2 linked regions of the Homo sapiens genome follow. The protein of the gene in region 2 purifies or fractionates together with the protein of the main gene of each other region. This does not show direct contact. Each region holds a gene or a part of one and is shown on either strand. Other genes may lie near its edges. The genes, in order: AMOTL1 and WWTR1.

Evidence for each region.
Region 1: the proteins of WWTR1 (region 2) and AMOTL1 purify together in Homo sapiens (affinity purification with mass spectrometry; 2 studies listed by BioGRID and IntAct, with this or other methods). This does not show direct contact.

Annotation. Positions count from the first base shown.
Region 1 is NC_000011.10:94,799,184-94,806,462, forward strand, and holds part of AMOTL1 (angiomotin-like protein 1), read left to right. Parts: intron 1-206; coding exon 207-1,128; intron 1,129-1,155; exon of another isoform or gene 1,156-7,279. UniProt on the Homo sapiens protein: Inhibits the Wnt/beta-catenin signaling pathway, probably by recruiting CTNNB1 to recycling endosomes and hence preventing its translocation to the nucleus.
Region 2 is NC_000003.12:149,521,957-149,529,235, forward strand, and holds part of WWTR1 (WW domain-containing transcription regulator protein 1), read right to left. Parts: intron 6,014-7,279; coding exon 5,880-6,013; intron 4,170-5,879; coding exon 4,057-4,169; intron 1-4,056. UniProt on the Homo sapiens protein: Transcriptional coactivator which acts as a downstream regulatory target in the Hippo signaling pathway that plays a pivotal role in organ size control and tumor suppression by restricting proliferation and promoting apoptosis.

The sequences.
Region 1 (7,279 bases), on a different chromosome or scaffold from region 2:
GAGAGGGAGTGCAGAATAGTAGACTCGCTTTGAATTGGAGAAGAAAATTCCATGAGACATTGCCAGGTAAATGGAGGTGATGATGCATTTGAAATCTTATTTTTAAATGTTGCTGTAGTTAGAATGTTAATTATGTACCACATAGTCACAGACATATATCTCCTGTGGAGCTGCCTGATATCTTTTTTCCTATGTTTATCTTTTAGTTGAAGATCCTCTTTGTAACTTCCACTCCCCAAACTTCCTGAGGATCTCAGAGGTGGAAATGAGAGGTTCCGAGGATGCGGCAGCTGGAACAGTATTGCAGCGGCTGATCCAGGAACAACTGCGGTATGGCACCCCAACCGAGAACATGAACTTGCTGGCCATTCAGCACCAGGCCACAGGGAGTGCAGGACCAGCCCATCCTACAAACAACTTTTCTTCCACGGAAAACCTCACTCAAGAAGACCCACAAATGGTCTACCAGTCAGCACGCCAAGAACCGCAGGGTCAAGAACACCAGGTGGACAATACGGTGATGGAGAAACAGGTCCGGTCCACGCAGCCTCAGCAGAACAACGAGGAACTGCCCACTTACGAGGAGGCCAAAGCACAGTCGCAGTTCTTCAGGGGGCAGCAGCAGCAGCAACAGCAGCAGGGGGCGGTGGGCCATGGTTACTACATGGCAGGGGGCACCAGTCAGAAGTCCCGAACTGAGGGGAGGCCCACTGTGAACCGTGCCAACAGTGGACAGGCGCATAAGGACGAGGCGCTGAAGGAACTGAAGCAGGGCCACGTCCGCTCGCTCAGCGAGAGAATCATGCAGCTGTCCCTGGAGAGGAATGGGGCCAAGCAACACCTTCCCGGCTCGGGGAATGGAAAGGGCTTCAAAGTAGGAGGGGGGCCCTCCCCTGCCCAGCCTGCAGGTAAAGTGCTGGACCCTCGGGGTCCTCCACCTGAGTACCCCTTCAAGACCAAGCAAATGATGTCCCCAGTCAGCAAGACCCAGGAGCACGGACTTTTTTATGGTGACCAGCACCCCGGGATGCTCCACGAGATGGTCAAGCCCTACCCTGCTCCTCAGCCTGTGAGAACAGATGTGGCCGTCCTGCGGTACCAGCCACCCCCTGAGTATGGGGTAACGAGGTGATTATCAACTGCAGACGTTTCGTGCGGCTTTTCAAAATTCAATAGTCATGTTATTAGCATTTATTATTTTCAGAGCAGATTAGGTTTTTGTCATCAGGCTTTTTTCCTTATGCATGATATTTAATAAACCACTTTGTGGCCAGAATATATAGGGTGAAATAGAGTAGAGGGCAACTGAGGGATTTTCTCCAAACATAGCAGCAGGCAGTTGGGGATTTATGAGTTTAGGGGAGGGACCTCACTTGTTAGCTGTCCTTGGGAGCTCTGCCTAGTGGCCTGGCAAAGTAGCAATTTTCCAATGGCTTTGTGGAGACCGTCCAAACTCCTGGAACATATTATTACCAGAGGGTTTTATAGTCTTTTTTCATTGTAGATTTTAAAGGAAAATGTAGTCTGAATGCTAGAATGGAGGAGTTAAAGGGACTGTAGAAATCACATAGTCCCATCCCTCACTCAACAGATGAGAAACTAAAGCCTGGAGAGATTAATGAATTTCATAGACACAACTCTGAGGCAGCTGGGGGCTACACTCAAGTATCCTGACTGCCAAAATCTATTCACTCCCTTGCCCTAATTCTTCCTACAGCCTTCACTTGTATTCTTCCAGTTGATTGATGGATTCAGCAGCACCTACTGAGTGTATGCTGTACTCTGAAGCCCTGTTCCTGGTTCAGAGATGGGGTCCCTGCCCTTCAGGACCCTATAGCATTGTCTTGGAGGAAACCAGCATCTGAACAGATCATTGCCATTCAATGTGCTGTTCTAGGAGAGAAATGGGCCGAGGATGCTAGGGTAACAGGTAGGATAGTATAACTCACAACTGGAGGGGCTGGAGAGAGCTTCCCAGAGGAGGTGACATTTGAGTTGGAACTTGAAGGATAAATCAGAGTTGTAGGGTAGAGATGAAGTAGCAGTATGTGCTGTGTGAGGGAGTGCCGTGTCTTCAGACAAAGAGGTCATGAGGATTTTTGTCTGGAATGAGTGGCAATAATGCAGAGCACTGGTGGGCAAGGGTGTGGTAAGAAGTGACAGGAGATATGTTTGGACAGGGAAGTTGGGACCCGTTTGGTTGAGGTATGTTTGGACAGGGAAGTTGATGATGACGGTCTCTGGGTGTCGTATTAAGGAGTTTAGAATGTATCCATAAGCAATCGGGAAAAGCGGTGTTCTTAGGTAGGGATGGTAAGTGGATGTCTAACAGCTGATTTTGGTGGCAGTGCATGAATTAGAGGAAAGGGAGCCCCACGCCACAAGGAGCTCCAGGGATGCTTTCAGTAGTCCAGATCAGAATTGGTGAGGGTGGCCAAAGCTTGGGCAGGGAGAATAGAGGAGCATTATGTGCTAAGAGAGGTAGGGAAATAGAACTGACAGGGTTTAGGGATTGGTTAGATACAGAAATTCTGGAATAGGGATGATGGAAATAAGGGAATTACGAATCAAACTCTCAGGAGAGAAATTGGGTCTGAAGATCACACTTTGGGAGTCAGAAATGTTTAGATGTTGCTGACATTGAAGGAGGGGCAGGGAACATGAACAGAAAAGACATGTGGCCACTGCCTATTATTGGATGTGTCATTTTCATGAAGGGCTTTATTATCTGTTTCTAAATTGAACAAGCCAGGGTTTTCCCAAGCGACCTCAGTGGCTATGTGCAGGACATACCTTGGCTGTACATCTTCTGAAAAAGGAGAGGCTGGAGGTTGGCAGAGGGAGAGTGGCCTGATCTGCCACTGGCTTCCCAGCACTGACACATTTCCCCACATTAGACTGAGAATGCCAGCTCAGAAGCAGCATAACCAACTGTGAGATCTTGGCCAGGCAGGAGAACGCATTCTCCCTAAGTGGGCATAACCGGACTCCTCCCAGGAATCCAAGATGGGATCCAGGAGGCTCTTCTTCCCCCTTTATAGCTCCTTGATCAAATCCCTGGTATTTGCATCACAGTGATTTACCACAGTTGTTTAAAATAAGCCATGATGTTATTCCACCATCATACCAGAGTTTGGCTTATTATATTTCACCCTTTTCCCTGATAACTTAACTCAGCCTCTAGAGCTTGATAGAGGGGAAGCTATCCTGAAATGAAATCCCCTTCCTCTTCTTTGCTTTACTATTTGTAAAGTAATATGTACATACCGTGCAATGCATACAGTGGATCACTTTGCCTTTTGTCATTTGGTAATAGGTGTGATGTGAGGTGGGAGAAATGGTCAGGGGAGGAGGGGAACACTTTTGGAGGTCATTTTTCTCAAAGTTATGACGTTAGAAAGAAGAAGAAATGTGTGAGGGATTTGAGCTGACTGCCAGGCTTGGCAGCTGGTTAATATGACGCATCAAATGTCTCAGGAGACGTAACAGACAGGCCATTGAGGCTGGGTCCCAGAGCCACAAGGCCCCTTTGTGAACAGGGCCATGGCTAGCCAGCATGGCTCCAGTGGTGCAGCCCTTGGCTGACTGGGTAAACAATATTGCATCCACACCAGCCCTGCTTCAGACACATTTAACGTGGCCTGAACTCGAAGGATTGGACCTGAAACTCAGCAGTGTGTCATGTTCAACTTGCCTGTGACCCAGAAGACAAGTAGGGCCCCTTTCATTTCACTGACACATTATCTTGTGCTTAAAGGGTTATCTGTTTGTCATTGATCGTGATGGTTTAGGAAGCTGCAGGCCATTGTGTACATACGTACAACCACATAGACTCTTGGACTAGAAAGAGACGCCTCTGATGGAGATCATGGAGTCCATCTCCCTGGCTGGTGCCCATACTGGTGGGCTCAGTATGTAATGAGTACTCAGTAGTTTGGTCCAACCCATTACATTGTTGAGACTTCACTCCTTTTTGCCTAGAGGTAGAAAGCTCCAAAGAGACAAGTGATAGAACTTATGAGAAGAATAAGAATTTGAGTTTTTTGTGATCACTCTTGACTCACCATAGCTTACAAATTCTCTCACCTGCTCTGATGCGCCCTAAAGATGGAGATGTCTGGTAGGTGATTATAAGGCCCTTTAGGCCCCTTTCCTGGGAACCCTCTGGGAGATGAGGCCTTGACCTCGTTGACTTGACCCACCTTGGCCCATGTGGGTGAGCTACTGTGGCTGGTGGGGATGGGAGTGCTAAGGCAGCAGGGGCCTGCAGGGAACATGTGTTGGCTAGGGATGAAGGCTCTGGTTTTCCTCTTGTTCTACTATACTTTTTCCTCAACCTGAAAGTGTAAATGGATAAGAATGAGGACAAGATGGGAATTAAACAGGTTGTTACTGTGGAGAATTGTGACCACTCCCAACCCCCCAAGCAAAGGCAAGCATTTGGATATTACTTATGACTCTTTGTGGAAACAGACCACTTCTAGAAGTAGTGACTTGGCTTATGCAATCTGCACTGTTAATGGAAATGAATGCATGAATGAATACCAAGGGATGATCTAATTTTTATCAAAGCAGTTTGGAGTATATTAGTCAACATGCATATTTGTTTTCCAAAGAAATCCATATTTCAAAACATTTGGGAACTAGAGATGCTAAAAAAATTACTTAAAATATCCTACTTTCCTAATACACCCACTAACATTTTTCCTGTACAAATTAATTTTTTCACATTATAATGATAAATTATATTGTTTAGTATCCTCGCTTTTGAAAGATAGCATTGTATCACAAGCTTTTTTCCACAATCCTTTATTTTTTCAAAACCAACATTTTTATTGCTGTATAATATTTCATAAAGTATACCATTTACACCATTTTCTCCATGATAGAGCGAACATCATCATGCATATCAAATTATCTATGTTTTGGCTTCCTTAGGAATCATTATTTAGAAATGAAATTATTGGGTAAATTATAATAAACATTTAAAAGCTTCTGATGCCAGAAAACCTTGTAAAAATATTACGGTGCCTGTTTTACTGCACTTTGACCAACGTTAGTTATTACATCATTATAATTGCAAAATCTTTGCTAATTTAATAGGCAAATAGTGTTTTGTTGTTGTTGTCTTGAGATGCCTGTCGCTCAGGCTGGAGTGCAGCAGTGCAGTCACAGCTCACTGCAACCTCTGCCTCCCAAGCTCAAGTGATCCTCCCATCATAGTCTCCCCAGTAGCTGCGATTACAGGCATGTGCCACCGTGCCCAACTATTTTTGTAATTCTTTTTTGGTAGAGTTGGGGTTTCACTATGTTGGCAAGGCTGGTCTTGAACTCCTGGGCTCAAGCAGTCTACTCACCTTGGCCTCCCAAAGTGTTAAGATTACAGGTGAACACTGCACCCTGCCTGCAAATAGTCTTAACTTCCTATTTGAATTTGTTATAACTGGCTAGGTTAATTTTGTGGGGAAGGGAGTATGTTTTGCTATTTAGACTTAGTTGATCTCAAAAATAGGCTTTTTGTGTTTCTTGTTCCTAAGACTTATATATTATAATGGACTCAGCATAAACTAAAATCTGTTTTTTCTAACACTTGCTCTCATTGTCCATTTTCTAGAACTCTGTCTTCACCCTTAGCAGGTGAGAATGGAGTAGTTGTGGTGGTGGTAGTCATAGCAGGAGGGTGAAACCTTCACCGAATGCTGACTGTGTGCCAGGCACTTTGTGTGGGTTACTTATCTTCCTTAATCTTTACAACTCTAAAGGGTGGGTACTATTATTATCACAATTTTTACATACAATAAAAACTTAGGCTTAGAGAGGGAGGTTAACTAACTTGATCAAAGCCAGCAGCTTGCAAGTGCAGGAGCCAGGTGCAGACCTGGAATGCTTTGCTGCACACTGCGTCTCCCACGAGTGTAAACACTTGGCCACTGTACTTTGCAGTGGAGCCGCAGATTTAAGCTTTCACTTGGGGTCACTAAATCTGGTGAATTTCTAATCAGATTTATAGAATATATCACATGTGATGTCCAGCCTGTGCTCTGCCCACCTTCTGTTTTTTTCAACAGGACCAGAATTCTGGTGAAGTATTCTAGACTCTAGGAAGAAAGCTGTCTGGATACCTCTTTTTCTTCAGATATCTGGGAAGACTGTCACAGACCAGACTTAATGGGGCTGACAGCTGTGGGTGTGGGCTTTCGTCTGTCTTTTGGTTTGCTTTCATTTGGAGGTGCTTTCATTCCTAGGGTGAGGGTTGTGGGTTTTCTTTAGATATTTTTATTAGAATGTTTCCATTATGGAAGATGATGAATACTAACTTAAGACTAATTTGTATGTTTTAGGCAGTATCCATTTGGAAAAAGACTAAGAATGACTCCTGTCAATGAAAAGAACACTTAAGGCTCTGTTTCTACTCTCTCAGCCTGTACATTGCCTTTTTGGCCTTTATCTTGGCTCAATCTTGTCTGTTCAGCATAGGGGATTTGATTTACTAGCTTCCGGGAAGTGGAGAGAAGAGTGGTAACTGTTTATTAATATTTTGTTCATCTATGAGTACGTTAATTTGATTTTTTGGTATGTAGATAGATATTTTATAAAAGCATGACATGGTAGTGTTTGGCCCAGCCCTCCCATCCTAGGTTGATGAAAATATAAGATGATGTCAAAGCCAGAGGAGCTGTGGATTTCCTGTCGTAAAGCAGACTTCTTGCCTTGTCCCAGGACAGCCATCACCACCACCTTCTTTCTCATCAGGGCAGGGGGCTTGCAGTGTCATACATTAAGTGAGGGAACCTGTGGTATGACCTATTCCCCAAATCACTATTTTCCTTTAAAAAAATGCATTATGCATTTTCCCCCAGAAAACCTGATTTCTTTTCATTGAGGATAGAGTCAGAGGCACTGACATTCTCTGGGTACATGCCCACTGACAGTGCAGGGAGGAGGGACAAGTAAAGTGGGGGCAGCCCAAGAGTACATTTGGCAAATTAAAGATAACGCCTGTCCTCAGGGAACCCTGTCAGCCCAGCAGTGCAGCAAGTCCAGTCTAAACATGAACAAGCATGAAGATATTTGCTAAATCACAGGCCTTACTCCTAGTGGGCTCTGTGTTTGGAATGTGCCATATTACAAGAAAGAAGGTTTGATGGTCCTGTCTTACTTTGTGTTGGACATGGCTGGAGGAGGGAGGAGAATCTTGGGAGTAAGTATGTGTTTCCAAAATGGGGAATTATGATTTGCAGTTTATGCAATCATGAAAATGAATTGCTTTGTGGGATGA
Region 2 (7,279 bases):
TCATTGATATATACAAAGTTATATACATACAAAAATATAATAAATGTTCATTGTCCTGAGAGAAAGAAAAACCCAGGTCTTCAGCCACTATTAATTACACAATATCAAAACAACAGGTTAATTCAAAAAGTCCCAAACAATTTTCTGAAGAGATAATATCTACTTCAAAAATTGAGAAGCATTGATAACTAAGGCCAGCTTCCACCATAACGTCATTTTTTAAAAACTTGTTAAATTATCTTTTGTGTGTTACAAGTGCAGTAGCCTTCCTGAAACGTGTGTAGGGAAGTTTCACTATTTTAAGCAAAATTGCCGAAAGTTCACTTTAGCAATCTGTGTTTTCCAGGGAGAAAAATTATATCCTTCCAAATGATGAAGGAACCATCATCCAATTTGGATTTTGGTGATAGCAAAACACAATGGCTTTTCTAGAAGTCACAAAATATAAATGACTCCTGGGTAACATTTTACAGTATTTTCATTGCAAAGGGTAGTAAACTGAAAAATTAAATCAAATTCAACAATATGACCTCAATATAGTGTTACTGATATTGAAAAATAACGTTAAACGAAAAAACAAAATCCAAAATAACTTTCTTCTACTTACTAGAGTGTAACAGATAAAAATGAGGCTTTAAAAAGTGTCTAAAAAACAATCTGATCTAATGTGCTGGATGCCTTTTTTTCTCTTCATCTCCAGTTAGAATCATTCATTTTTACTAATTTCCCATTTTAACTTTCAGATACTCAAGAATATAATTTTTAGCCAAGCAAAATCTCTGTTTTAAAGAATTCCTAGGCCGGGTGTGGTGGCTCATGCCTGTAATCCCAGCACTTTGGGAGGCCGAGGTGGGTGGATCACCTGAGGTCAGGAGTTCAAGAACAGCCTTGCCAACATGGTGAAACCCTGTCTCTACTAAAAATACAACAAACAAACAAACAAAAAAACCCCAAAAAAACAGTGCCAGGCATGGTGGCGCACCCCTGTAATCCCAGCTACTCAGGAGGCTGAGGCCCGAGACTCGTTTGAATCCAGGAGGTAGAGGTTGCAATGAGCTGAGATCACACCACTGCACTCCAGCCTGGGTGACAGAATGAGACCCCGTATTAAAAAAAAAAAAAAAAATTACTCTTATCCTTTCTTCTCAGGATGGAAGGCATGAGGATACTGGCTAAGCTTCTTCATTAAAGTTAACAATCTTAAAATAGAAGCAGCTCTGCAATCTCATAGTAATCTTTTTGGTCTTTGCAGTTTATCCACTTAAAAAGTGGAAGAGACAAACACAAGGCAATTCTTTTTTTTTTTTTTGAGATGGAGTTTCGCTCTTGCTGCCCAAGCTAGAGTGCAATGGCACAATCTCGGCTCACTGCAACCTCCGCCTCCTGGGTTCAAGTGATTCTCCTGCCTCAGCTTCCCGAGTGGCTGGGATCACAGGCATGTGCCACCACGCCCAGCTAATTTTGTATTCTTAGTAGACACAAGATTTCTCCATGTTGGTCAGGCTGGTCTTGAACTCCCAACCTCAGGTGATCCACCCACCTCGGCCTACCAAAGTGCTGGGATTACAGGTGTGAACCACCGTGCCCAGCCACAAGGCAATTCTTAAAAGGGTGTGATTACTGCAGAATATTCTGGAAGGATGGATGATTTCCCAGCCTTTGCTCATGTTATTCCCTTTACTGGATCTTCGCACCAAGCCCAGCTGTTGCTGCCATGTATGTTTTGCAAATGGAGTGCTCAGCTGGCTCGTTTCCCTTCAGCATGTGGCCAGCGCGTGGTCCACAGGCCTGATAGATCTTTTCTAGCCACACTTGAGCTCTGCCTGCCCCCACAGCTTCCCTCATTTTGCTACTGTATAATTAACATTTCTCCCCTTGAGAAGATGTATGTCCAGTTCCTACAAAGACTTCACAGAGGTGGCCCCACACTCAATGAGCTGACTCTAACTTAACCAGGTTAACTTGGCACTCACATTCCCACACTCAATGAGCTGATTCTCACTTAACCAGGTTAACGTGGCACTCTGACATTATCAAGTCCATTGTATGTATGACATCAGTCTTCTTACTGGAGAAGAGCACTTTGAGCTGGTCTCTGTGATCTCATGACTCCTCACAACTCTGCCGTGAGCATATCACTCCCACTTTATGGGTGAGAAATCTGAGGCTCACGGAGGTTATGCAACTTACCCAAAGGCGCTACTAGGAATGGAGAAGCAAGGATTCAAATCAGGCTGCCTGTTGGCTAAAACTATGTTCTTTTCAGGACGTCATTTAATTCCACATTACGGCTTCAAAATAAAACACTCCCTACTTACCCACTTGAGGTTATTTTAAAGAGACATAGAGTAGAATCCATCCTCTTTTATGGTTTTTTTTTTTTTTTTTTGAATGTCAAACTTAGATTTAGATCTCCTGAGCTTTTTTCCTTAACTTTGCTTTTTATCCTTACTGGCTTCCCAGTGTTTAGAAGATGAAAGTAAAGAATTATTAAACATAGGAAGGAGCCACTTCCTAAGGCTATTCCAAAGATAGCAAAATAAATCTCACACTCAAAAAGCAGAGAGAGAGATAAAGGTGGCAGGGGGTGGTGGTGGGGGAAGAACTGAAGTAATAAACTGAAGAACAGTAAAACAATCAGTGCAAACTATTCCTGTGTCACTCCTCACAAGATAGTCTTTGCAATCTTCTCAATGCAAAGATGACAACCTACACGAAAGACGCCAGGGGAGCAGCTTTAATGTACTGCATTTGTAAGACACCTGGCTATGAGTTTGACTCTTGATCTTTCCAACAATTTAGACTCACAACACAAAGAGAAGCCATCAAAGAGTAGAGTGTAAAAAACTACAGGCACTATGGCAAACACTTTGGGGGAAGGAATTTTTTATTTTCAACACAAAACAATTACTTTCGTCAATGATAATGGAGAAGGAACTTTCATGAATAACTCCAAATAGTGGACACCCTGGCTGTCATTTATTTTTGGTTCTAGAATATCTTCTTAGAGTTTATGACTTTCATAATTAAGTCTAGGTAAGGCTAATAAGACTAACTTCAGTTTCTGCAATTGGAAGTCTCACTCCTTGAGAAAAGGAGAAAAAGAAAGGTAATCGGGAAGCCTGGTGAGGCTGGACCTGAAGGATGCACAGGCTGGGGACAAGGTAAGAGTAACCCTGACTCTCTTCTCTTTAATTCCTGAGGGAGGATGTCGTTACCATGTTGGAACTTGGAAGTGACAATTTTGAATCCTCTGAGTTGCTCAGCATTCCAAATACCCACTGCCAATTGCTTTTCAAATGCAGTGAATGACATGAAAAAAATTGGATACTAGAACTATAAACCAGTGTCACTTTCCAGGAGAAAGGGTGGCCCATATATTACAACTAAAAACTAGAACAGCATAAATACCCCAATGTGGAAACATGGCAAACAAACAGTGGTGTCTTGATGCAATTGTGAGGAAGGGACTATATGGAGCAAAGATGAATTAAAAAAAAAAAACAACAGAATTTAAAATCCTGCGCCCAGATGTAAAACTATACTTGTATAATCTATGAGGAAGGGGCTACAGTTTATTAATAGTGCCTGGGGGTTCAGTGGCTTTTCAGCTGTTATTTTATGTTGTCGTTGAGATTGAGTGTTTCTGGTTGGATTTTAAAATTGAGATGACCGTACTCGCTCTGGCAGCACCTATACTAAAACTGGAATGATTAGCATGGCCCCTGCATGAGAATGACATGTAAATTCATGAAGCATTCCATTTTTTTTTTTTTCAACATTTTTACAGACACTCGGGACTACTGGGAGTGGGGAGGAACAAGGGGTGAAAAACAAACTATTGGGTACTATGCTCACTACCTGGGTGACGAGAGCAATCGTATCCCAAACCCCGGCATCACATAACCATGTAGCAAACCTGCACATGTACCCCCAAATATAAAATAAAAGTTGAAATTATAAAAATAAAATAAAAGAAAAATAAAATTGAGATAACCGAAGAGATCATTTAAAAAACACAAACCCATTGTAAGTGCTTGCAGGCTTTGCTCCTACCTGTATCCATCTCATCCACATTGCTGAGGAAGTCCTCCGGAGTTGTGGGGACACTGTAGCACCCTAACCCCAGGCCACTGTCAGTGCTCTGCTCCCTCGAATGATATGGCCCTCTGCAAAGCAAAAGATGAAGAAACTTCAATATGAGCCCACTAAATAAATCTCAAAATTAAAACACAGTCACAAAAGCTCTAAACTAGTGCAGTTGTGCCATGCTGCCCAACTTTCCAGGTTAGGGAGGAAGGAAAGTTTTAATTTTGAAATACATACCCTCATGAAAATGAAAATAATCATGTGTGGCCATTCACAGTAAATTGACATTGATTTCCTTTTCACCTCAAAATAACCATTTGAACATTCTTCAACATACAGAGTATGACACCATTTATGTAAAACTTTAAAAAAAAAAAACAAAAACTATGTTGAATATTGCTTATGGATACATACACTAACGGGCAGTAAGGGGTATAAAAGTCTGTGTGATGGACACACGCCAGTTTCTGAATAGTGGCTACCACTGGGGACAGAAGGGAAAAGAAACGAGATTTCAGTGGTGGGGGGATGGCTTCAAATATTAATTGTAATATTTTATTTGTTAAAAAGTAAGATTAAATAAAACTATGGCAAATCTGGGTAGTGGGTACATGGGTAATTCATGTTATTCTTTGTACTTCTCTGTGTTTCAAATACTTTAAAATCAACAATTTAAAACCTCCATTAATTATTATTTCAGCTACTATTTGTTTTTATCTCTATCTTTAATAATGTTCATAATTGTATTGTTTGTTTGCCAGACGTCTCTGCAAGGGCAGAATAAAAGGCACAGGAAATACAGAATTGCCCTTTTTATTTGATTTAAAAACTACTTCTGCTCATGAAGATATTTCTGGCTAAATTCTCTTTCCCTTTTGCTCCTTTGTTTTAATTACTTTTTAAATTGTGAAATTATTTTAAACTCACATAGAAGACGCAACAAGAGTACAGAGCGTTCCCATGTACCCTTCACCAGCTTCCCCAGTGATAACATCTTACATAACCATAGTGCAATTACCAAAATCAGAAATCTGACACTGTAGAATATTATTTACTAAACTATAGATCTTATTCACATTTCACCCTGAACATCATCTCTTTTCTTTTCTTTCTTTTTTTTTTTTTTGAGATGGAGTTTCACTCTTGTTGCCAAGGCTGGAGTGCAATGGTGCAATCTCGGCTCACTGCAACCTCCGCCTCCCAGGTTCAAGCAATTCTCAGCCTCCCGAGTAGCTGGGATTACAGGCATGCACCACCATGCCCTGCTAATTTTGTATTTTTAGAAGAGACAGGGTTTCTCCATGTTGGTCAGGCTGGTCTCGAACTCCCAACCTCAGGTGATCTGCCCACCTCGGCCTCCCAAAGTGCTGGGATTATAGGCATGAGCCACCATGCCTGGCCGAACATAATCTCTTAATTGTTCTGTTCTCAATTTGCCATATGGCATGCTTTTATCCCCTGTTGGTTACATAAAACCAGAAGATTCTTCCAAGTATAAGTACTAGACGACACCATCATGTTTAAAAATATAAGTTCATGCCCATTTTCAAATTCTTGACTAGGGGTTTACTCTACGTCCTATCACCAATTTTTTAATTTGGAAATTTTTTAACAGGCAGATGATTTCCCCTGCTTTTCTTTTTTCTGCCAGCTCCTCCCACTTCCTCCCTTTATTCTCACCCTCAACCCTCAAGCTCCCCACCTCTTCCCAATGTAAACAAAGATCCTATTATAGTCTAGATCACATAATAAAGAGAATAAAAATAAGTGGCCCCCAAATATTAACTTACCCATTGAGGAAAGGATCTGAGCTATTATTAGTGATGGATCTCATGTCTGGGGTCATCGTGGGTGGGTTGACAGCAGCCTGAACTGGGGCAAGAGTCTCAGCTTCCATGGGGAGCTGTCGACAGAGGGCAGCTTCCTACAGTCAGAATGGGAAGCAAGAGTCATGCACTCATTGTCACAAGGCATGGAGCAAAGTGTACTTCACATCAAAACTTTTCACCAAATACAAAGCACTGTGTATTTACTCCCAGCAAGTCAAAATCACCAGGCAACCATTAGTATTCTTTCTCCGAAGAAAGTCTTACAGACATAAGTCACTTCACATTCACAAAGTTAATGGGAAGCTCAGCTATTATTTGATCTAAGGGCACTTAATGTTGCAATCATCCCACCCATGCAATTATTTAAACACCCAAATCATAGAAAGCCCTCTCAAAACACTTTGTCAGAGACAAGGCTTTTTCTATCTCAGGTTCTCAAACCAAATCTACATCAATCAAAGCAATCAGACTCCTCTGGACTATAAAGTACATTCTGGTCTTTGCCACTTACAGGCCAGTAAAACTGTGGAATTACAGAGTCCAGGCTCTACATTAAATTGCATCTGGCAGTTTTATGTTTACAGACAGGAAAGCAAAACAATGAGTTGAAAGTTTACTTTAAAAAGTCAATCAGTGGCCAGGGGTGGTGGCTCACGTCCATAATCCCAGCACTTTGGGAGGTCGAGGTGGGCGGATCACTGGAGCCCACAAGTTCGAGACCAGCCTGCAACATGGTGAAACCCTGTCTCTACAAAAAATACAAAAATTAGTTGGGTGTGGTGCTACTTGGGAGGCTGAGGCAGGAGGAGCCCTGTGCCTGGGAGGTTGAGACTAAAGTGAGCAGAGATCACGACACTGTACTCCAGCCTGGGTGACAGAGTGAGACGCTGTCTCAAAAAAAACAAAAAAACAAAAAAGTCAATCTATTTGACTACTTTGTTGACTAAAATGCTGAAGGTTGGGGAACCATGTAGATCCAATCCAAATCCCACAGACAAGTAACTGTTTCACAGCATATGGATTTCATTAGCAGAAACAAATAATACAAGCATTATTTTATAAAAGCTAGCATTACATTGCTAAGAAGAGTCTATCCAAAAGGCTACAAATTTACTGACTGCAACTACTTTCTCTAGGTATAATCTCCAGGAGTCTCTCCATCTTGACAAACATAACCAGACATCAAATTCCTTTCAAATTTGCTGATGTTTCCAGAGAATACTTTTGTATGTTTACATTTGCATCCCAAACCAAGGTTAGGCCTTTCCCCATATTTATGCCTATCAGTTTCCCACTTTCCATGCTGAAGTCATTGGTCTCACTGTCCCTCAAACCCTAAAACCATGGCTACAATGGCAAAC